Linked DNA regions of Homo sapiens. The protein of the gene in region 7 purifies or fractionates together with the protein of the main gene of each other region. This does not show direct contact. Each region holds a gene or a part of one and is shown on either strand. Other genes may lie near its edges.

What was found.
Region 1: the proteins of PDIA6 (region 7) and NUDT21 purify together in Homo sapiens (affinity purification with mass spectrometry, with the first as the bait; one large-scale study listed by BioGRID). This does not show direct contact.
Region 2: the proteins of PDIA6 (region 7) and ISCA1 purify together in Homo sapiens (affinity purification with mass spectrometry; 2 studies listed by BioGRID and IntAct, with this or other methods). This does not show direct contact.
Region 3: the proteins of PDIA6 (region 7) and KLHL24 purify together in Homo sapiens (affinity purification with mass spectrometry; 3 studies listed by BioGRID and IntAct, with this or other methods). This does not show direct contact.
Region 4: the proteins of PDIA6 (region 7) and VWA1 purify together in Homo sapiens (affinity purification with mass spectrometry; 3 studies listed by BioGRID and IntAct, with this or other methods). This does not show direct contact.
Region 5: the proteins of PDIA6 (region 7) and BTBD9 purify together in Homo sapiens (affinity purification with mass spectrometry; 3 studies listed by BioGRID and IntAct, with this or other methods). This does not show direct contact.
Region 6: the proteins of PDIA6 (region 7) and DIPK2A purify together in Homo sapiens (co-immunoprecipitation; one study listed by IntAct). This does not show direct contact.

What each region holds. Positions count from the first base shown.
Region 1 is NC_000016.10:56,431,483-56,434,332, reverse strand, and holds part of NUDT21 (cleavage and polyadenylation specificity factor subunit 5), read left to right. Parts: coding exon 1-2; intron 3-1,599; coding exon 1,600-1,621; 3' UTR 1,622-2,850. UniProt on the Homo sapiens protein: Component of the cleavage factor Im (CFIm) complex that functions as an activator of the pre-mRNA 3'-end cleavage and polyadenylation processing required for the maturation of pre-mRNA into functional mRNAs.
Region 2 is NC_000009.12:86,265,539-86,269,038, forward strand, and holds part of ISCA1 (iron-sulfur cluster assembly 1 homolog, mitochondrial precursor), read right to left. Parts: intron 654-3,500; coding exon 505-653; 3' UTR 1-504. UniProt on the Homo sapiens protein: Involved in the maturation of mitochondrial 4Fe-4S proteins functioning late in the iron-sulfur cluster assembly pathway. Probably involved in the binding of an intermediate of Fe/S cluster assembly.
Region 3 is NC_000003.12:183,682,821-183,685,019, reverse strand, and holds the end of KLHL24 (kelch-like protein 24), read right to left. Parts: 3' UTR 501-2,199; downstream 1-500. UniProt on the Homo sapiens protein: Necessary to maintain the balance between intermediate filament stability and degradation, a process that is essential for skin integrity.
Region 4 is NC_000001.11:1,434,334-1,438,489, forward strand, and holds the start of VWA1 (von Willebrand factor A domain-containing protein 1 isoform 1 precursor), read left to right. Parts: upstream 1-1,356; 5' UTR 1,357-1,415; coding exon 1,416-1,488; intron 1,489-2,593; coding exon 2,594-3,151; intron 3,152-4,156. Other genes in the region: uncharacterized protein LOC107985729, read left to right, coding at 1-69, 203-817. UniProt on the Homo sapiens protein: Promotes matrix assembly. Involved in the organization of skeletal muscles and in the formation of neuromuscular junctions.
Region 5 is NC_000006.12:38,573,930-38,577,429, reverse strand, and holds part of BTBD9 (BTB/POZ domain-containing protein 9), read left to right. Parts: intron 1-3,500.
Region 6 is NC_000003.12:143,985,323-143,988,822, reverse strand, and holds part of DIPK2A (divergent protein kinase domain 2A isoform a precursor), read right to left. Parts: intron 3,281-3,500; coding exon 2,977-3,280; intron 1-2,976. UniProt on the Homo sapiens protein: May play a role in cardiomyocyte proliferation through paracrine signaling and activation of the PPI3K-AKT-CDK7 signaling cascade.
Region 7 is NC_000002.12:10,802,786-10,806,285, reverse strand, and holds part of PDIA6 (protein disulfide-isomerase A6 isoform d precursor), read left to right. Parts: intron 1-3,500. UniProt on the Homo sapiens protein: May function as a chaperone that inhibits aggregation of misfolded proteins. Negatively regulates the unfolded protein response (UPR) through binding to UPR sensors such as ERN1, which in turn inactivates ERN1 signaling.

The DNA.
Region 1 (2,850 bases), on a different chromosome or scaffold from region 7:
AGGTACAGAAAGTTGAACATTTTTTGGTTCATCCATATTAACTGTCAAATTTAAAATATTCTGAGCCACTTGGGAAGGTATAGTTCATGAATTTTGGTCTTTAAGGAAACTAAGAAAGTAGATAGACTCTTAGATCATGTGCAAGCCATAGATTAATTGTGACTAATACCATCCCCAGACTCTTAAGTTTCGGCATGACATTCTGGTATTTGTGCAACTGCTCTTCCCTAATTCTGATATTCTCAAGAGTTAAGGTTGATGTCTTTATTCAAAAAAGAGATGGTTAAATAGCAGTCAACAGTGTGTAAATATGAGCGGAGTTGTCTGTATTAAAATGTGGCAAATTGGCTGGATGTAGTGGCTCATGCCTGTAATCCCAGCACTTTGGGAGGCTGAGGCGGGGGTGTATCACCAGGTCAGGAGTTCGAGACCAGTCTGGCCAAGATGGTGAAACCCCATCTCTACTAAAAATACAAAAATTAGTGAGGCGTGGTGGCCAGCGCTTTTAATCCCAGCTACTTGGGAGGCTGAGGCAGAGAATTGCTTGAACCCGGGAGGCAGAGGTTGCAATGAACTGAGATCACGCTACTGCACTCCAGCCTGGGCGACAGAGTGAGACTCCATCTAAAAAAAAGAAAAAAAAGGTGGCAAATCGAATATCTTGGTGTAATATATTCGTTTTCCTTTTTTGAAACTTACTATATTTTGGCCCAAATTGAGGCTTGTGGGATTAGGTCCTGAACTTTTACGTGGGGTTTGAATCTTTAGGCAGTTAGAGTGATAAGAAATGCAGTTTTTTAAAAGTTGACTTGTACTGGTTGAGGTCTCTATTAGAGCCAGCCATATATAGGAATTGCAGAATAACATGGTGGTTATGAAAGTAGATTCTGCAGTCAGTGTTTTGGATTTGAAGCCCAACCTCAGTACTTGCTGGCAGTGTGACCTTGAACAAACTATTATACCTATTTGACTGTTTCTTCTTCTGTAAATGGGGATAGTAGTCTCTACTTCAGAGGATTATGAGGACCAAGTGAAATAATGCATATAAAATGCTTACAACAGTGCCAGTAATCTGGTACATACTTAATAAATGTTAGTGAAATTGGCCTTTTGTGAAAGCTTATTGAGTATGAAATTGCTCTTTCTACTTCGTCACTAATCAAACCTTATCTTTTGCCACTCCACTTTGGCCTCCTGATAGGTTACAAGTTGAAATGCATATGGGGGGAAAAGAGTCATATTATTTATTCAAACACCTACTTGTCAAGTGCAGGAACTGTGCTGAGTAGTCAGAGTATAAGGACATGTAGAAACTTTTCCTGCCTTAAAGAACTTATTAGTGGATAATTAATCAAATTTATAGTCTTAATTTTTTTTATTATAAGTATTCAACAAGTGTTTTTAGTGTGTAAGATGTGACCAGTGAGGGAAAATTGGTGTAGAAAATGCCAAACGTGGTAAAAAGGCATTCGAAGGGGAAAAAAAGAAAATGCCAGACATGCTAAGGGAGGGCAGAAACATCCAGATAAATTTATTTATCTAATATGGAAAGTAGTATGTACTGTCTTTAATAAAGGTATTGTTCTTTTTAAAATTCAGGTTCAATTTTATTTACAACTGAATTCCTGCGCAGTGGAGAAGTAAAAGAAGCCGCTTGTCTCTGTGAGCACAGCTATATACAGTGTAGAATAAATGTGGTAGAAAAGTTTTTTTGGTTTTATCTCTTTTGCGATCCCTAAATTGCCACCTTTCTATTGTTTGAATAGTAAAATTAATATGAAGAACTAGATAGTGGTGTAAACAAATGTGATAATGTTTATTTACTTTCGGTTCTGCTCATACTTTTTTGTACAACATTAAAGAAAATGGACTTTTTTTATTTTAATTTCTCATTAAACTTCTAAAATTCTTATAGGTGAGGATCATTTTTCCCCCCACCTTAGGATGGTGAATGTTGCAACACAATGACAGGTTTAAGTCAGTCAAGTTTATTGGACCCTTGCTTTGATACCATTCTTGGGCACATACTCCAAGATTGTATTAGATTTTTGTGATGAAGAGCTTCCATTACTTCTGAAAACTATATTTATCTGAGTGAGTCCAAGGTGCAACTCCTAAATGAATTGTGTTGCAGAGAACTCCCAGTATAATTCACTGACCAGTACATTTTATAACCATCCAGGCCTTGGTTTGCAAGCAACAGACCTTAAACATACAGGAAACTATTAAAATTGGCTCGATCAGTAGTCATAGGAATTGGTATAAGAAGAGACTCATTTAGAGCTCAGAGTTTTCTTCACATAATGGGGGTATTAATTATTTGTGCTGTTGCGAAATTATGTGTCTTATTCTTAAAGCCATGGTAAAAATAGGGATCTGTGAAGGAAATTTCTAAAATTGGATGTATTAGGTTTTGAACTCTGAGATTGCACAAATATTCAATTAACTTGAAGTTGTGTACATAGAGAAGAAAATTTGGTTTTAGCAAATGACAGAGCCTTCAAAAATATTTTTGGAATAATGTGAATCAACCGAAAACTGGGGGCAAGGCAGAGGACAGGTTTTCTCAGGTTAAGAGAAAAACGAAATTTTAAAAACTTTAAAAAATACTGATAAATTCGGATCAAATTTGGGGGAATAAAAAATATTAGAGCAAAGGAGTTTGCTGGTTGTGTCATTATTTAATGATCAAAGTATAGCATGTATGCCTTATTACAGACTTGTTGACTATAGGCTTAATGTAAAAAGGAATCTTGCCAGATGTAGCTACTTAAGGAAAAAAGGGTTTTTAATAGAAATGAACTTTTGATTAGTATGGTGCCAGTCACAGGGCTATTTTCCTGAATATTG
Region 2 (3,500 bases), on a different chromosome or scaffold from region 7:
GTACTATTAAAGAGTATGCAGTGAGGCAGCTGACAATGAAATTTTTCATAAAAATGTATAAAAAGGCTATGTTAAGTTTGGGTGGAAAAAACAATGCACCACCATATTACTACCAGCAGTCACGATGTCCTGTCTCAGATTTTAGGAGTCACCGATCTGGTTGGGAGAAATGCTGAGGGATGATCAAGCCATCAATAGCGATCTAAGGAGTGCACACAGTTCAGGAAATGGATAAACAGGTGCCCAGGAAGGCAACTTTAATGAAACTGGTTCTAAAACAAAGGATACAAGAGACCTAAATGATCCAAAAAGAGTGATGGCTTCTCATTTTCTGTCCCCTATAGAGAATATAAATATCATTTCTTCTGGAATCCAACACACTGGATTCATTTTCAAGATGTATCACTTTATTTTCCAGCACGTGACAGTCACATGATTTCTGCAGTGAGCCCCAAAGCTTCCACGAGCTTTCCTGGAACCTACGGCCAGAAGAGTCCTGAGATTTCAAATATTAAAGCTTTCTCCACAGCCACAAGTCCCTTTGATGTTTGGGTTATTGAACACAAACTCACTGGATAATTTGTCTTCAACATAGTCCATTTCTGTTCCTAAAAGTGTTAGCTGTGCTTTCTTTTCGATGAATACTCTGACTCCTTGGAGAAAAGAAAACATGTGTCATGGAAAGCCTGCAGCCTTATGGAACTTGCTGATTCAAAGCACAAGTGAACTTGAAATAGTGACTATCAATGAAAGTCAAACAAGAAGCCTTGAACATTTTAAATTATTTCCTTAAGGAATTAAGCATTCAGTTTCCTGTCTGCCCCTTCTTTCCCACACATGAATTTATGTCACAATCACATTAGGGGAGAATTTTATACAAGTAAATTCCATGACAATTTTATGCAAAATTAGAATTTACCTTTCACTATACTTCACTCATTTTTCCAGTTTGCAACATGAAGAAAATGTATATTCTCGATGAGTTTTATGAAATAAAAAAAAATTTATGAAAATTCTGCAATACACTAGATACACGGATTCAAGCTTAAAGATGTACAAAGGACTGTGATACAATGGGGCTATTTTAATAACATCAATCAGTACAACAATAGTCTTTTCTGGTTACAGGACGGAAAACAGGTACTATTCCCTAGTAATTACACAGGTAGAGGTCAGCATCTTTGTAAATACAATCTTTTTTTTTTTGGACAGAGTCTCACTCTGTCACCCCGGCTGGAGTGCAGTGGTATGATCATGGCTCACCACAAGCTCCACCTCCCAGGCTCAAGCGATCCTCCCACAGGATTACAGGCACATACCACCAGGACCAACTAATTTTTTTAGAGTCAGGGTTTCACCACGTGGCCCAAGCTGGTCTTGCATTCCTGGGCTCAAGTGATCCTCCCACCTCGGCCTCCCAAAGTGCTGGGATTACAGGTGTGAGCCACAGTGCCCAGCCAACAAATACAATCAATTTAAGAAAGCTTTCTAGTCTGGGAAACAGGGCAAAACCCTGGCTCCACTAAAAATACAAAAATTAGCCGGGCACAGTGGTGGGCACCTGTAGTCCCAGCTACTCGGGAGGCTGAGGTGGGAGGACTGCTTGAGCCCGGGAGACAGAGGCTACAGTGAACCATGATTGTGCCACTGCACTCCAGCCTGGGTAAGAGAGCAAGACTCTGTCTCAACAAACAAACAAAACAACGAAACAACAAAAAAACTTTCTTCCTTACAAGAAATTGAGCCATTAGCTAAATATAAACAATATATAATTAAGTCACCTCTTCTTTAAGATGAAAATCTTAAGGTTTATAATGTGTTATAATTTTTAAAATAATACATTTTTAAAAGGTCTTTATTGATAGTTATAACTTTAGTTTAATAAGAAAGCACACTTAGGAATCTAGGCCTCATTCTCCCATGTAGGTAAGAACTGCAAGCTAAGTGCATACTTCCAATGACAAGATAAATTATTTATTTTAGATAGGTTTTAACAGATTATAGGGTGGAAGAAGGGGGCAGCAGCAAATATAATTAATTTTAATTATAAATTAAATTATAATAAATAGCTTTGAATAAAAATTGGAAATACAGGATTCCTCAAAAACATGAGTTGATAATACAGCTCCACTAAAAATACAAAAATGAACCAGGCATGGTGGTGGGCGCCTATAATCCCAGCTACTTGGGAGGCTGAGGTGGGAGGATCGCTTGAACCAGGGAGGTGGAGGTTGCAGCAAGCCGAGATCACACCACTGCACTCCAGCCTGGGTGAGAGAGCGAGACCATCTCAAATTAAAAAAAAAAAAAAAAAAAGGATTATAATGGAGCTGAAAATTCCCATTGCCTAGCAATGCTGTAGCCACCATAATATCACAAGACAACCCATTACTCAGGTGTTTGTGGTGATGCTGGTGTAAACAAACCTATACTGCCAGTCATATAAAAGTCTAAGCATGTTCAATTATGTACACTACATAATACTTGATAATGATAATAAATGGTTATGTTACTGCTTTATGTATTTACTATACTTTTTATTGTTTAAAATTTTAGAGTGTACTTCTACTTATAAAAAAAAAAGTTAACCGTGAAACAGCCTGAGGCAGGTTCTTCAGGAGGTATCCAGAAGAAGGCATCATTATCACAGAAGATGACAACTCCATGAGTGTTACTGCCCCTGACGGCCTTCCAATGGGATGAGGGGAGGTGGTGGAAGACAGGGATATTGATGAACCTGACCCTGTGGAGGCCTAAGTTAATACGTGTGTTTTTGTCTTAGTTTTTAATTAAAATGTTTATAAAGAAAAAATTAAAAATAGAGAAAAGCTTATAGAATAAGAACGTAAAAAATTTTTGTTATTTGTACAATGTGTTTCAAAGCTAATGTTATCACAAAAGAGTCAAAAAAAAAAAAAAAAACCCCAAAGCTTACAAAGTAAAAAAGTTTCAGTAAACTAAGGTTAATTTATTATTGAAGACTAAGTGTACAAGGTTTATAAGGTCTATAGTACTACGGAGGAACGTCCTAGGCTTTCACATTCACTTATCACTCCCTACTCACTCACTGACTCACGCGGACAACTTCCAGTCCTGCAAGTTCCATGCATGGTAACTGCCACAAACAGGTGTACCATGTTTTATTTTCTTCTTCTTCTTCCTTTTTTTTTCTTTTTTTTAAGAGATGGAGGTCTCGCTATGTTGCCCAGGCTTAAGGGCAGTGGCTATTCACAGGTAAGAACACAGTGCACTATGATGTCTTTTTTTCTTTTTTGAGACAGAGTCTCACTTTTTCACCCAGGTTGGAGTGCAATGGCATGGTCTCGGCTCACTGCAACCTCCGCCTCCTGGGGTTCAAGCGATTCTCCTGCCTCAGCCTCCCAGTAGCTGGGACTACAGGCGTGTGCCACCACACCCAGTTAATTTTTTGTATTTTTAGTAGAGATGGGGTTTCACCATGTTGGCCAGGCTGGTCGTGAACTCCTGACCTCATGATCCAC
Region 3 (2,199 bases), on a different chromosome or scaffold from region 7:
CACGGTGAAACCCTGTCTCTACTAAAAATATAAAAAGAAAAATTAGCCGGGCGTGGTGGCATGCACCTGTAGTCCCAGGTACTCAGGAGGCTGAAGCACGAGAATCGCTTGAACCCAGGAGGCAGAGGTTGCAGTAAGCCAAGACTGCACCACTGCTCTCCAGCCTGGGTGACAGAGTGAGACTCCGTCTCAAAAAAAGAAAAAAAAAATTTTTTTTTTTGAATAGGGAATACTTTCGTGTGTTTCAGACTAAAAAATTGATTTTATATGTATTTATAATTACACACATATACGTATGCAGTAAAGTTTCATTTTTACTTGTCCTTCAGCCACCATTTCCTTTCCTCTTACACACTAATATTTTCAGTTTCTTATTTATCCTTCCAGTTATTTTATGGACATACCAGTAAATACACACATATATTAATATATCCAGTATTTTCCCCATCTCTTTTTTGCACAACCCCTTAAATATACTTAAAATAAAACAGAACAACAAATTTTTCGTAAACAAAATTTAATACAACCATATAGTCAAGTAATAATGGTTAAAAGACATTTTATTAGATACAACTTTTAAAAAATTAAACTATGCAAGAAGTATATTTAAACAAAACATGTAAGTAAGTATTCACGTGCTACAACTTAACTAAGAACAATTAAATACAAAGCATTCTTTCCACTATGAAGACTCTGGAGCCTCTAATTGAAAGCAAATGACCTTAGGTCTATACTAGTTGTAAAGCAGATTATACTTTTGTTCAACTCTAAATTTGTATTGTCTTAGAGCTCCAACAACTCTCAATAAAAATTTAAATAAAGAAACCTTGGGGGAGGGGTGATAGGGAAGGGGAGAGTAAGTGCTTTTTCAAAAAGGTAAATGAAAAAGCCTGAAGAGGGAAAAAATTGTACATAAGTATGGAACAAAAATAAGTATACTTTTTTGACATTCGATGTAGATACTGCAAATGAATTTACACGGGTTTAATCAATGTAAGATAGATATTTGTCTGAATATTTTAAAAAGCACCTAGGTATCAAAAAATAAAAACAAAAAATATAATGAAACTCCAAACATCCAACAATCTCCCTTAACATTCTCATTCTGCCAAGCAACCACACGTTGGTGCTTATTACACAATTTAAGAAGGGGAAGTTTATTTACTCTATAGGAAACAAATATGAACCTTATCTAAGGTAAGCTTCATTTAGATTGAAAAAAAAGTTGAAATAGCACTAGAGAACTTAAGGCACATAAACAAATTCAGGTGCAGTTATTTTGAAACCATTAAAACAAATTCTTTTCTTTGGAACAATATATAAAATAAGTTATGAATGTTGCTGTTTTTATCAGCACTAGGAAAATTTAATATCTAAGGCAATCACACAAATGTAAAATGTTCATATAAAACATTAAAAAATGTCTAAAGTGTCTCTGGAATTATTCATTCACACTCCTGGCTCAAATGGTTTCTGGTGCCTAGCATTAGATGTGACAATAATGATAGCTAGCTAGTCAAACCTACTGCCTTAAAGATCAACCAATTTGCTCCATTCTGGTTACTTGGCATGGTAAATTTATTTAACTAAAAAGAATAATGGGGTGAGGTGATGTAAACCTGGCTTTCAATAAGATGCACAACAAATTCTAATAAGGCCAAAACTCTGTTGAGGTTAACTGGTGTCTTGAGTTTACTAAAATAAAGGCAGTCCATAGGAAGCCTCAAAGAGACATTATCTTACCACTTGGCACCACAAAAACACCAAGCTCTCCTCTCTGAAAATACAGGCCGGGGGTGGTGGCTCACGCCTGTAATCCCAGCACTTTGGGAGGCCGAGGTGGGCGGATCACGTGGTCAGGAGTGATCCGTCTCTACTAAACCCCGTCTCTACTAAAAATACAAAAAAATTAGCCGGGTGTGGTGGCACGCACCTGTGGTCTCAGCTACTCGGGAGGCTGAGGCAGAATCCCTTGAACCCGGGAGGTGGAGGTTGCAGTCAGCTGAGATCGCGCCACTGCACTCCAGCCTGGGCGACAGAGCAAGACCCCGTTCTCCCCCCTTCCCCAAAAAAAAAAAAAAACGAAAAAAATACAGTTTGAAGTAGATGTCGTCTTTTCCACATATAAATCTCAAGACATAAAAGGCACACACAATTCAACTCCTCTCTTTTCATATATGGGTTCTCACAGCAATTTAA
Region 4 (4,156 bases), on a different chromosome or scaffold from region 7:
GGACCCAAAGTCCCCCCACCGGGCCCAGGCGGAAGCACCAGGCATTTCTGGTCCCAGCCGAGGTCTGAGGTCTGTGGAGCGCAGCCAGCACCTCCACTGCCAAGATCCCCGGCAGGGGGGGTGGGGGGCGCCGGCGGGGACACAGCTCTCCCTTGTTCCTGCCGCCAGCTCCTCAGCCTCAGCCTGCTGCTTCCTTTTTTAGGCAAAGTCGAGTGCTGGCCGTCCGCACGGCCCCGCGGTGTCTCACCTGCCTGAAAGGGAGGAAGGAAGCCTGTGGAGCCCCATCCGTTCTCCCGCGGCGCATCCTCCAGGAGAGGGTGGGGAAGGAGGAGACATCCTGGCAGACACCCCCCCACGTCCCCCACCTCCCAGCTCTGAGCTGAGGAGGCCCTGGAAGAGGGCCATGGCTACTCCGAGGGAGGGCCGGGGTAGGGTTCTCCTGTCCAGGGGACACTGCTGGCCCAGCCCCACCCAAGCAGGGGAAATCTGCCCTGGGAGCCACTGTCCCTCAGGACGCCCCCTGCAACCAGCCACCTCTCGTCTGGGCCTCACCAAGACCCCAAGACTCAAGAGCTCCTGTCTCACCAGTGGGACCCTCCAGTCCTGCTGGGGGTGTGTCCTGGGTCCTGGAGTCTGGGCCCCTCACTGGGTAGGGTATATGGGTAACAGGCCCAGTGTGGTCCCACTGGACAGGGCCTCAACCAACCATCTCCCACTCCCATGCCTCTTCCTCCAAGAAGCCCAGGTGGCGTGGGTGCTTCGAGTCTCTCTCGAATTCCTGTCTTCTGTCCCCTTTCAAGCCACTGTGTCCTTGTAAGTTCCACCCCATGGTCCTTCCCATCCCTGCTGGTCAGTCCCTGGGATACATGTCCTGTTACTCCAGACACCTATCCGCCTCCAGCGCGGAGGCCAAGGCGAAACCACGGTCTGGACGTGTTTTTTTGGTGCCACCGCCAGCCCCTGGGGTTCTCTTGGGCCTGGCTGCTGGGACCCCAGCACCCAGAGTCACGGCAGTGGTGGGCATGGGGAGGGCCTAGCCTGGTACCTCCCTGCTCGGCTCCCGCGGCTGGGGGTCGGAGAGGGGTGGAGAGCGTGGGCCGCACAGCCTCGGCCGGGAGAGGGAGACTGGAGTGTGTGTGTGTGCGTGCCTGCGCGTGCGTGCCTCGGTCGTATCTCGGCTGGTGCTGCGTGTCCCTGCGTGTCGGGGTCCGCTCGTGCGCGCCTCTCCGGGGTCTGTGCGCGTGGCCCTCCGCTCGCGCCGGAGGGCGTGGGCGTGGCCTCGGCGTGGGTGTGGCCGCTCGGGGAGGGGCCTCCCGGGGGCGGGGCCGGCCTGGTCCGCGCGGTGACGCGCCCTGCAGCCCCGAGCGAGCGAGCGAGCGAGCGAGTTGCCGAGCGCGCCCCGTCCCTCGCGCGCGATGCTCCCCTGGACGGCGCTCGGCCTGGCCCTGAGCTTGCGGCTGGCGCTGGCGCGGAGCGGCGCGGAGCGCGGTGAGTGCGGCGGGCGGCCGGGCCGGGGCTGGGGCTTCTGGTGACCGCTCTGCGCCGCTGCCCGCGCAAGGCCGTCGCTGTCCCCTGCTCCGGACGGGCGGGCGGGCTGGGAGGCTGCGGGAGCCGGGCGGGGGCGCGGGCGGAGCGTCCTGCTCACCTGAGGCTGGCGGCCCAGGTGCTCCAGGCGACACCGTCCGTGAGCGCCGGGGCATAGGGGCCGTCCCGGCCCGCATCTCTGCGGGATCGCGGGCCTGGACAGGAAGAGGGAGATGTCTGTCAAGGGGGCACCCCTGCCTCAGTTTCCCTACCCTTGCGAGGGCCCTTAGTGGAGGGATGGTAGGGAAGTTGGAGTCGCCCCACCGCACTGGGGAAAACCGCAAGGCCGGGACTAGAATTGAGGCACGCTGGTGCCCTGGCTTGGTGGGGAGGGGCGGTGTAGGGGGCATCAGCCTCCACCCCGGAGGTGCCCGGAGGAAGGGGGAAGCCTGCGAGGGGCTGTTCCGGCTTTCAGGCTGCTGGGGGTTATATCTTGTTGTGTGAGTCCAGGTGGGCTGGAGGATGGAGGCCAGGGGAGGGGCCACCATCTAGTAAGCGGGGTCTGGGCTCCAGCCAGGCCATCCGGCGTGGTCATTGCTGTGCCTCCGACACCTTCCCCTGCTGCTGTGTGCATGCCCAGGGTGCCTCACCTGCAGGCTGAGCTGCGTGGCTGAACTCCAGCCTCAGGCTGCTCCTCTGAAAGCCATGCCTGGAGGGAACAGCCCCACGGCTCAGGCCTGTCCTGGGGGCCTAGGCCAGGACTCTTGGCTCCACCTGCTTGCAGGGTCTGTGAGGAATGGGAAGGTGTGGGGGCTTGGAGCGGAGAGTCGCCCTCTCACAGATGGGATAACACAAGCCCAGAGAGAGCCCTAGATCCCATGGCCAGTGTGCAGTGAAACCCCCAAAAGTACAGGCCTCTTGCTTAGAGTTCCTCTTTCCCCCAACCTAGGACCTTTGGGAGAAGGCAAGCATCCACTTAAGGAAAGCTGGGGCCCTGGGGGACCCTGCCTTGCTGTGGGGCTGTCTGGGGGGCCCACACCTGAGGCTGAGCATTCCTCCTTTCCCCCAGGTCCACCAGCATCAGCCCCCCGAGGGGACCTGATGTTCCTGCTGGACAGCTCAGCCAGCGTCTCTCACTACGAGTTCTCCCGGGTTCGGGAGTTTGTGGGGCAGCTGGTGGCTCCACTGCCCCTGGGCACCGGGGCCCTGCGTGCCAGTCTGGTGCACGTGGGCAGTCGGCCATACACCGAGTTCCCCTTCGGCCAGCACAGCTCGGGTGAGGCTGCCCAGGATGCGGTGCGTGCTTCTGCCCAGCGCATGGGTGACACCCACACTGGCCTGGCGCTGGTCTATGCCAAGGAACAGCTGTTTGCTGAAGCATCAGGTGCCCGGCCAGGGGTGCCCAAAGTGCTGGTGTGGGTGACAGATGGCGGCTCCAGCGACCCTGTGGGCCCCCCCATGCAGGAGCTCAAGGACCTGGGCGTCACCGTGTTCATTGTCAGCACCGGCCGAGGCAACTTCCTGGAGCTGTCAGCCGCTGCCTCAGCCCCTGCCGAGAAGCACCTGCACTTTGTGGACGTGGATGACCTGCACATCATTGTCCAAGAGCTGAGGGGCTCCATTCTCGGTATGCGGGAGGAGGCAGGGCCCAGGGAGCCCTAGCTGGGAGCCGCAGAAGGAGAGGCTGGGTTGAGACTTTGGGAAGATCTCATGTCCCCAGAGCAGCGGCCAGGGCCTCCGGGGCTGTGGTACCCCTAGGGTGCAGGGCTGAGTGATGCAGCTTGTCTATGCACACTCTTCACTGGGCGACCCGTGTACCCTGCTGAGACGGGGGCAGGCTTGAGTAGCCACCTCCAGGTGTAGCTCCCTGCTGATGTGTCCAGCCCAGACCTCGAGGCCCCAGGGAGTGCAGAGCCCGGGTGTAGGCCCAGGAAGAAGCTTCCAAGTCTGGGGACTCTGCAGATGGGCAGCATGTGCTCCTGAGCATGCCCACCATACCTGGAGAGGGGTGAGCCAGAAAGGTCAGGGACTGCCCCCCCAGAGAGCACAGGGCACCTCTCCTGGGTGGGGACAGCCGCCGAGGGCTTTGAACTAGTTCGGACTGCAGGCCCACTGTGAGGGTTTCCTGAGAGGCCGGACCAGGGAAGGCCTGAGGCAGGAGCTGAGCAGCTCCCATTGGCTTTTTTTCTGGACCTCCCTGCCCCAGCCAAGCCCTGAAGGAGCTGGGGCTGGAGATGAGGAACCGGCCACTGGCTCAGCCTGCTGCAGCCACTGAAAAATGCCAACCCTGGGGATCTCACCAAGTCTCCGTCTGTGGGTTAATCATCCACCCAGAGCCGGAAGGGGTTGGACTGTGGGTTGGAGAGGGGTGGACGGCCCTCCCCAAGGTTTCCCCAGGGACGTCTGGCCCCTAGTGGCCCCAGGTCACCCAGTGCAGCTGCGCCTGGAGGGGACCAGGAGGAAAGGCTGCCTTAAGCAGCCAAAGGAAAAGCCTGAGGCTGCAGTGCCGAGGGGCCAGGCAGCAGGGTGGGGGCTCCTGGGAAAGAGGCCGGGTCTGAGGGTGGGGGATGGGAAGAAAGTGGCCCAGGCACCCAGCACTGCAGGAGGAAGATCCTGATAGCTTTAACCCAGC
Region 5 (3,500 bases), on a different chromosome or scaffold from region 7:
ATTTACAGTGTGTTGTGGAACTATTTATACAACATGTCTTGTATAATATGTATGTAGTACACATGTGAATGAATGAGAAGGGACAGGGAACATTTGAGAAGTGGAATGCTTTTTAAACTCCGTGCTATACAGTGAATGGTAATATTCATTGTGATACATTGAAAGCAGAATTATTGTTAGGGGGTGCATTCTTCTTATGAAAGCCATGAGAAATATTTCTGGAGTCTTCCCTGGGAATGGCCAGGGCCAGAGGACATCTTTGAATGCCATTGTACATGTTCTGGTTATCTGTTTTTTCCTTTAGGTTAGTGGTTAACAAATGGGGTTTGACAGAACAGGTGTTTCAAGTGGGGTTGCATTTGGGGCAAATGAGGCTTAGCTAGTGGGGCTCTAGGCTCAGAGCTTCTCTTCAGCCAGAGCACCTCTGCTTTTATTTTTGTTATGTATCGCAGCCCTCGATATGGTTGTCTTTTAAAAGTATCAAAAAGCTACTGTTTTAATATTTCATATTCTCCCTTTAGGTATAATCCATCATTTAAAATTTCTGAAATTTTGTAAAGCCTATACAAATTAGTGAATTTGTTTAGGTGGTTAAAGGCCCCCAAAATTTTGTTGCTTTTTTCTGCTGTGTTTTCTCACTGGAAATTGCCTTTAGATATTCTTTACCTTAAAGTCAAAAGATTAAAGGTAGAAAGTGATTAGTTTGTTTGCTCAGGAAGAAAAGGGAAGGGATATGGTGAGTGTACACCATGGAGAATGTGGAGCTGGCCCCTCACCCATGACCCATCTGATCTCCCACTGTGGCTGATTGGGAGCAGATGGGAAGGCACCACAGCACTTAGTCTCTTGGTCAGAAGTTACTCTTATACTTGTGAAACTTATGGTCTAACAGCAAAAGGCTGAATTTTTACCTCCACTAAGGAACTTCACAAAACCGTTCAGCCTCTGGTACAGTAAAGAACGTTGCCTACATTTTTTTTATTGGTATGACCGGACACAATATTGTTACCCAGGGATCCTCTTGTGTGAAAATGAAGAAAATCAATTTCATTTCCCCAAAGACAGACTAAAGTGTCTCAGGTCTAGCGGTTGCTCTTTTATCAGAGGAGTTTTGAATGGATTAAAATAAGAGGGACAAGAAATTGAGTGAAGATTCCATATCTCAGAGCTGCCTAGGGATACTTCCAGAGTGACAGAGGGACCCCCACATAGAGGAGGAGATTGAGTCTGCATTGACTCAGGTTATTACTGTTGTATCTGATTAAAACACAGGCAGCATAACAAAGCGTCTGATATGGACTGAAGGACTGTGTGTTTGCATTTAATTTGAAACAACAGGAACATGACTCCCAGAACAAATCATTATGAATATAATAATACCAGCCATGACAGCCTGTGTGCTTTACCCACCTGAAAGCTCCTGTTGTATGTATGGAAACGTGCCTTTGATCATGATCTCTGGCTTTTAGAAAATATACTTTACCTTTATATATTAGTGAGCATTATTATACTCTCCTTATTTTGTCTTTCCTGTCTGGCCTTGACTTTGTTGGTAGAGCTGTTACGTGTTTAGAGACTGGCTGTATTCATGAAGGCAGTTTTTGTCTTGGTATAGCCAGCTCCCAATTCTGGTTGAAAAAAAATGAGCAACAGTGATGTTAGTGATAATGATAACAAGAAAAGGAAAGAATCTTGATATCCATGTTAATAAGAATTTTTTAAAAATTATAGCCACTTTATTATATTACTACTTTCCTTAGTAAACTGTCTTTTTTACTAGGTTATAATTTTGATAGTATTTAAAAATGAACCTAAGAATATGTCTCTGTAGATTAACTGAGGATGTCTTGGTGTTTCTTATCTTCACAATTATTCATTGTCTACCTAAACAATGTTCTAACTGCACTTCTTCCAAGAACTTCACTGGGCAAATAAATTGTTTATTTCCTTAGCACGTAAGTGTTCAGTTTGCATTATGTTAGTTAATTTGCACGTTTGTATGTCAGCTTTGTTCTTTAGTGTCCTTTGCGTGTTTATCTTGCCTCTGATACTAAAATTATAAGCTCTTGGAGGCAGGCAGTATGGATTCTAATCTTTTATTATTCTTGCACAGTGCTCAGACTGTGACCTTGTATGCAGTAGGTACTCTATAAATGTTAGCACAGGTTTCATGGTGTCAAGGCAATGACTATGTAATGAAGAGAGATTGATGGGAACATTAATATGTACATATATTCCTTGAGACTTTTTATCAATGTATTCATTAATACATGTATGAGTGCTGGAAAATTCTCTGTAATGGTAAATGGTTCTGAACTGTTTGCAAAGGTTACTTTGTTTTTTCTTCAGGAAACTGAATTTGGAGGTTATTCCTGAAGAATGTGTCATGTATTGATGAAAGATTACATCTAATACATTTACAAAAATGATACCTTATGTATGAGAAATCTGAGATTACCCCGTCCTCTCTCTGAGTTTAGGCTAAACTGCATATAAATCAGAACTGTGTAGTAGAAAAACAATGGGCTGTGGAGTTAGGTAGAGCTCTTCTCAAATTCTTGTTTAAAACAGTGGGCTGTGGAGTTAGGTCGAACTCTTCTCAAATTCTTGTTTAAAACAATGGGCTGTGGAGTTAGGTAGAGCTCTTCTCAAATCTTTGTTTCACCTCATATTTGTGTTGTAATACGATTGTGCCTCTCTGAGCCCTAGTATCTGCATCCATAAAGAATAGGAATACCAACACCTCTTCATGGGGTTTGATGTGAGAGTTAGATGATACAGCACATTTACATGTACAGAGCACAGTTCTGGCAGAAAGGAGGGACTCAATAAATGGCAGTCATTTTTATTATTTTTCCTAATTTCAGAAACTCCTGAATGGTGGTTGACCTTCAGAGAGAGTCATCCCTGCCATCCTCGTTGGTCACGGTAGCTCTCACTGTGAGGTGGCTCTCACTCTAACCTCTAAAGACCCTAGTCTTTTTGGTACTTTTTTGTATCGCCAACCCATACATACAGTCCAAAACATGCCTTAAACAGTTTTATCTTAACAACCGGCCTATCTTTGTATATGTCTAGGAGTTTTCATATATTTTGGTTGGTAAAATATATATAACATAAGATTTGCCACTCATCTATCTTGTCAAATGTAATTCAGTCAGCATTCACCTCACCAAGATAGTCGATGTTATCTAATGGCAGATAATATCAGGCTTCAAAGCCAGTGTGAACATTCCAACCATGATAATGAACTCAGAGCAATGGTTCGCTTTGCCTTTCTGGACTCATTTTAGGAATGTTCGTGAGTTAAGTGGGGATTGCTCTATGTAGCCAAAAGCTTAGACCAGTTATCCTCTTCAGCCTTTAACTGGAGATGGAGAAAAGTGACTCATCAATTTATGTTTAGTTTTTCATATGCCTTGAGAACCATGTTATGTCTTATCAGCCTTTTCTTTCTCAGGAAAGGCAATTTCCGCTTTACCCATAATCTGTAACCTTCA
Region 6 (3,500 bases), on a different chromosome or scaffold from region 7:
ATAATTAAGTATATGGGTAAAGTTTAAGGTTCTAATTGGATGACAAGGTATGTACAATTGCCATAATAGTGTCAATATTTTATATATAAACAAAATAAATATAAAGGAGCTATAAGGTATTAGGTGGGCATGTCATATGTACAACTAGAACTAGACTTGAAACTTATGATTTTGAGGTAAGAGGGATATTAGGCAAATTGAGAACACATAAGCACACATGTACTTGAAGGAGTCAAGGCTTGAAAAACAAATAGCTAGCTGTATAGGGAAGAAGGAAGAGACATTTTTGGAAGAGGAAACTGGGAATGCCCAGAAGTGGGCCGATTCATTCAGGAAAACAAGAGGCCATTGTAGCAGAAGCACCAAGGGCAATAGATGGAGGGGTATTAAAAATGAAGCACTCGAAAAACACATATATACACAGGCTGGGCGGGGTGGCTCACATCTGTAATCCCAGCACTTTGAGAGGCCAAGGTGGGAGGACTGCTTAAGCCCACAAGTTTGAGACCAGTCTAGGCAACACAGCGAGATCCCACCCTCTACAAAAAATTTAAAAATTAGCCAGGCATGGTGGTATGTGCCTGTAGTCCCAGCTACTTGGGATGCTGAGGCAGGAAGATCACTTGAGCCAGGGAGGTCAAGGCTGCAGTGAGCCGTGATCACACCACTGCACTCCAGCCTGGGTGACAGAGACCCTGTCTCAAAAAAGAAAAAAAAAAAAGGATCAGAAGAGGGCCAAGTCACACAGATTACAGATTATGCCCTGGCTTTAAGGTGTTTGGATTTTACTTCCAGAACAATGGGAAGTCATTAGAACCATTTAAGCAAAGGAGTAGTAAGTTAATGTTTTTTGAAGGTTACTATTCCAAAAGAAGGAAGGTTACTATTCCAAAGGAGGAAACAACTTCGAGAAGTTGATACTAGTCACAATCACTTCACAAATTTGCCAATTAGGTGGTTGCTAATGGCAAGGCAGAGGTCTACGTCAGGTTTTAATGGACTAAGGAATGAATAGAGGCTGAGGAAGCAGAAAGGCAATAAATACTTTTAAAAACAGTGGACAAGCAAGGAGAAGCAGAAGAGAGTCTTATATATACTTTTTATAGGAAGGCAAGAGAAGTTGGATATTAAAGGAAGGAGGTGGGACACTGAAGAAGATAACTGATGTAACAAGTTCTCAAAGAAGAATCTATCTGTTGCTGTTTTAATGAGGTTTAGATGATAAAGGACACTGGGGGAGTTGCCACAGCAAAATCTCAATTTCCCTGTGAAGAAATAAAATAAAGGTCATTTACTAGAAAGTGGAAAGAAAAGAGAGTAAATGAACAGACAGAGACTTTTGCAAAGTGACTATTTAGAGGACCCATGAGACATTTGAAAAGAAATGACCACAGTTAAAGCAGCACTAGAGCAATGCTCACTGTATGAAATGGAAGAATACAGAAGCTATATGGCTGGATTCATCTAAGGTCAGGAATTAGTAATAATTATTCCAGGAATGTCTGCATAAAATGAATTATAAAAAATTATTGTTATAAACACTGAAATAATTTTTTTAAGCTTAGGAAAATTGCACAACTCTATGAATATACTAAAAACCACCTGCTTGTGTACACTTTAAAAAAGAAAGAATAGTATACGCTGCTACAATATTCACAGATGTAGGAAGAGGTAAATAGAGAGTAGAATACTCCAGCAGGGTGTTCACTTCCTGTAGGAGGATCTACATGGCAAGTCAAGAAATAATCAGAAAAGTGGTCTGGTAAGTATAAAATCTGAAAAAGGGAGTGGGAAAAATCAAGTATTTAATAGGATCATGCCAAGATCATGCAAAAAGTAAATGTCAACCTAATATATGGCTGTCACATAAACTTTTCCCCAGGTGCCGTAAATTTTCAGCCTTTGTTTGTCAAAAGATACTCATATTACTTTTATCAGGGGGAAAGAGGGGATTAAAAAATATAAAACCCTCACCATGGAGCAACAACCCTTTGGTTTTGCTAACTGAATTGGTTCTAGACCTACAGGCTTTGTTCTTGATGCTTTACAACTTCTATGGCATTTAATTTTCTTTAATTTTCTTTTTTTTTTTTTTTTTTTGAGACGGAGTCTCGCTGTTGCCCAGGCTGGAGTGCAGTGGCGCAATCTCGGCTCACTGCAGGCTCCGCCCCCTGGGGTTCACGCCATTCTCCTGCCTCAGCCTCCCGAGTAGCTAGGACTACAGGCGCCCGCCACCTCGCCCGGCTAATTTTTTGTATTTTTAGTAGAGACGGGGTTTCACCGTGTTAGCCAGGATGGTCTCGATCTCCTGACCTCGTGATCCGCCCGCCTCGGCCTCCCAAAGTGCTGGGATTACAGGCGTAAGCCACCGCACCCGGCCGGCATTTAATTTTCAAAACACTTCAGACACTACTCATCTATCCCATGAAGAACTCAAAAGTAAATGGAGAGCAAAGTTTTGGGTGAGATGTAATAATCAGAATGTCAAACCAAACTCAGAGCTGCAGTGCCAGGGATCATCAAAATGGTTAAAAATAAAGTACAAACCATATTTCAAGAACCCATACAACCATTCTGTTTTTCACTTTCAGTACAGAATTCAATATATTACATGAATATAATTATATTCAACAGTTTATTATAAATAGGCTTTGTTTTACACAATTTCCCCCAACTTTAGACTAATGTAAGTGTTCTGAGTATGTCTAAGGTAGGCAAGACTAAGCTATGATGTCCCGTAGGTTAGATATATTTCAAATAACAATATTTTCAACTGACACCGGGTTTATCAAGATGTAACCCCCAGTAAGTCAAAGAGTATCTGTATTTGTTTATTGACAGTGGTCATATAAAGCAAAGAAAGACGCTTAAAGTTGCCATCTAAGGAGGAAATTCAAGGCTCATTTCATACAAGTATAAACATTATTTTGACATAGGAAAAAATGAGTAGAAAAAAATCTAAAATTATATACTTACTTTGTCTAATTAATCTTTTGTCAGCAACCAAAACATTTTCAGCATCCACAATGATTACCTTCCCATCTCTAGGACCAACTGCAAAATTGTCAAAGCTGACGTCCAGGAGGTAGAGTGCAAATTCAAAGTCATTGTTTGTAAGCTGTTCTGCTATTTCCATTAATTGCCAAGCGAGGTCAACTCGTTTTTCCCATGGCGCATTAAAGTAACTCCACAGTTCTTCTCCAACATAATTTACAGCCACCATTCTTCCACAAGCTCCAAGATACTTTGCAAATGGCCAACCTTCATCAGACGGAAAACTCTACAAAAGAATTATCTTAATATTACAAGAGATTCTGATGAAAATATCCTAGGTCTATCCTCAGATCCTTTCAGTAGAGATTGCTACTAGGAATGACTTTGGATTTTCTTATTACATTCAACAGTTTATTAGAGATTAACTTCATTTTTTCCTAACTCATACCAGTACTATGGACCTGAAAAAAATTTAAATAGAGAACTTTACATTATAAAGCTAAAAT
Region 7 (3,500 bases):
AGTGATCCTCCCACCTCAGCCTCTCGAGTAGCTAGGACTATAGGCATGCACCACCATGCCTGGCTAATTTTTGTACTTTTTTTAGAGAGGGGGTCTCACTATGTTGCCCAGGCTGGTCTTGAATTCCTGAGCTCAAGCGATCTGCCTGCCTTGGCCTCCCAAAGTGCTGGGATTACAAGCATGACCCATAGCACCTGGCCAGTATTTTCTTTTATATCCGTATTCTGTAAGGTTTTTTTCGTTTTTTTTTTTTTTTTTTTAATTATACTTTAAGTTTTAGGGTACATGTGCCATGCTGGTGCACTGCACCCACTAACTCCTCATCTAGCATTAGGTATATCTCCCGATGCTATCCCTCCCCCCTCCCCCCACCCCACAACAGTCCCCAGAGTGTGATATTCCCCTTCCTGTGTCCATGTGATCTCATTGTTCAATTCCCACCTATGAGTGAGAATATGCGGTGTTTGGTTTTTTGTTCTTGCAATAGTTTACTGAGAATGATGATTTCCAATTTCATCCATGTCCCTACAAAGGACATGAACTCATCATTTTTTATGGCTGCATAGTATTCCATGCTGTATATGTGCCACATTTTCTTAATCCAGTCTATCATTGTTGGACATTTGGGTTGGTTCCAAGTCTTTGCTATTGTGAATAATGCCGCAATAAACATACATGTGCATGTGTCTTTATAGCAGCATGATTTATAGTCCTTTGGGTATATACCCAGTAATGGGATGGTTGGGTCAAATGGTATTTCCAGTTCTAGATCCCTGAGGAATCGCCACACTGACTTCCACAATGGTTGAACTAGTTTACAGTCCCACCAACAGTGTAAAAGTGTTCCTATTTCTCCACATCCTCTCCAGCACCTGTTGTTTCCTGACTTTTTAATGATTGCCATTCTAACTGGTGTGAGATGGTATCTCATTGTGGTTTTGATTTGCATTTCTCTGATGGCCAGTGATGATGAGCATTTTTTCATGTGTTTTTTGGCTGCATAAATGTCTTCTTTTGAGAAGTGTCTGTTCATGTCCTTCGCCCACTTTTTGATGGGGTTGTTTGTTTTTTTCTTGTAAATTTGTCTGAGTTCATTGTAGATTCTGGATATTAGCCCTTTGTCAGATGAGTAGGTTGCGAAAATTTTCTCCCATTTTGTAGGTTGCCTGTTCACTCTGATGGTAGTTTCTTTTGCTGTGCAGAAGCTCTTTAGTTTAATTAGATCCATTTGTCAATTTTGTCTTTTGTTGCCATTGCTTTTGGATACAAAATCAATGTACAAAAATCACAAGCATTCTTATACACCAACAACAGACAGAGAGCCAAATCATGAGTGAACTCCCATTCACAATTGCTTCAAAGAGAATAAAATACCTAGGAATCCAACTTACAAGGGATGTGAAGGACCTCTTCAAGGAGAACTACAAACCACTGCTCAAGGAAATAAAAGAGGATACAAACAAATGGAAGAACATTCCATGCTCATGGGTAGGAAGAATCAATATCGTGAAAATGGCCATACTGCCCAAGGTAATTTACAGATTCAATGCCATCCCCATAAAGCTACCAATGACTTTCTTCACAGAATTGGAAAAAACTACTTTAAAGTTCATATGGAACCAAAAAAGAGCCCGCATCGCCAAAGCAATCCTAAGCCAAAAGAACAAAGCTGGAGGCATCACACTACCTGACTTCAAACTATACTACAAGGCTACAGTAACCAAAACAGCATGGTACTGGTACCAAAACAGAGATATAGATCAATGGAACAGAACAGAGCCCTCAGAAATAACGCTGCCTGTCTACAACTATCTGATCTTTGACAAACCTGAGAAAAACAAGCAATGGGGAAAGGAATCCCTATTTAATAAATGGTGCTGGGAAAACTGCCTAGCCATATGTAGAAAGCTGAAACTGGATCCCTTCCTTACACCTTATACAAAAATCAATTCAAGATGGATTAAAGACTTAAACGTTAGACCTAAAACCATAAAAACCCTAGAAGAAAACGTAGGTTTTTTTCGTTTTTAAAGTTTGTTTTAGTTTTTTAAACTTTTTTGTCAAAAACTAGGACACAGGGCCGGGCACGGTGGCTCACGCCTGTAATCCCAGCACTTTGGGAGGCCGAGGCGGGCGGATCACAAGGTCAGGAGATCGAGACCATCCTGGCTAACACAGTGAAACCCCATCTCTACTAAAAATACAAAAAATTAGCCAGGCGTGGTGGCAGGCGCCTGTAGTCCCGGTTACTCAGGAGGTTGAGGCAGGAGAATGGCGTGAACCCGGGTGGCAGAGCTTGCAGTGAGCCGAGATAGCGCCAATGCACTCCAGCCTGGGTGACAGAGCAAGACTCTGTCTCAAAAAAAAAAAAAAACACAAAAACTAGGACACAAACACGCACATTAGCCTAGGTCTACTCAGGGTCAGAGTTATCAAGGCATCACAAGGTGATAGGATTTTTTAAGCTCCATTATAATCCACAGGACCACCCTCATATATGTGTTCTCTCCTTGACCCTGTGGATGTGACTGTATATGTAAATTTAAAAGGTGAAATTTTGATAGTAATGCCATTTCAGAGAACTTTTGGGTTCTTAAGATACTAGTAAGTTCAGAATTTGTTTTCCTAAATTATTGTTGTAAATTGCATGTAAGTTTCCAGAGTTGCTAATGAAAATGCTCTTGATCCACAATGTGGCAGAACTGTGTGGTCAGCAATACAGTCGACACTGTATCCTGTCTTTATAAGGTTGTTCACACGAACAGTGTTTCTGATAATGTGTTATGGATAGTATTAAGAGAAATAAAACTATTTATAAAAATAAACATTGGCTGGGCGCCATGGCTCATGCCTGTAATCCCAGCACTTTGGGAGGCCGAGGCAGGCGGATCACCTGAGGTCAGGAGTTCGAGACCAGCCTGACCAACATGGAGAAACCCTGTCTCTATTAAAAATACAAAATTAGCCGGGCGTGATGGCACATGCCTGTAATCCCAGCTACTTGGGAGGCTGAAGCAGGAGAATTGCTTGAACCTGGGAGGCGGAGGTTGTGGTGAGCCAAGATCATGCCATTGCACTCCAGCCTGGGCAACAAGAGCGAAACTCCGTCTCAAAATATAAATAAATAAATTACCATTGCCCTTGAAAGAGTCACAATCTAGTGGAAGAGACAATAATTATTTTCCCTTCAAAAATATATTTGAATAAAGATAATGTGCTAATAATTGCAACTGAATAACATGAGGAATGATTACTACGTGATTGCCCAGGGTTACACAGGCAGAAGTGACCTCCCAATTTTTCAGCGTCCATGCCATAAAATGACAGTAGTACTGCCTCATGGAGCGGTTGTAAAGAACAAAGACGTTGATACATGAAAGCCACTAAGAATAATGCTTCAGCCTTTTTCCAGTGCAGCCCAAGGAGTGGGAGTGGGGACCGTCCGTTCCTTTCTTGCTCAGCGTTGCAGCAATGGGAGTGAAATTCCAGGGGCTCCAACT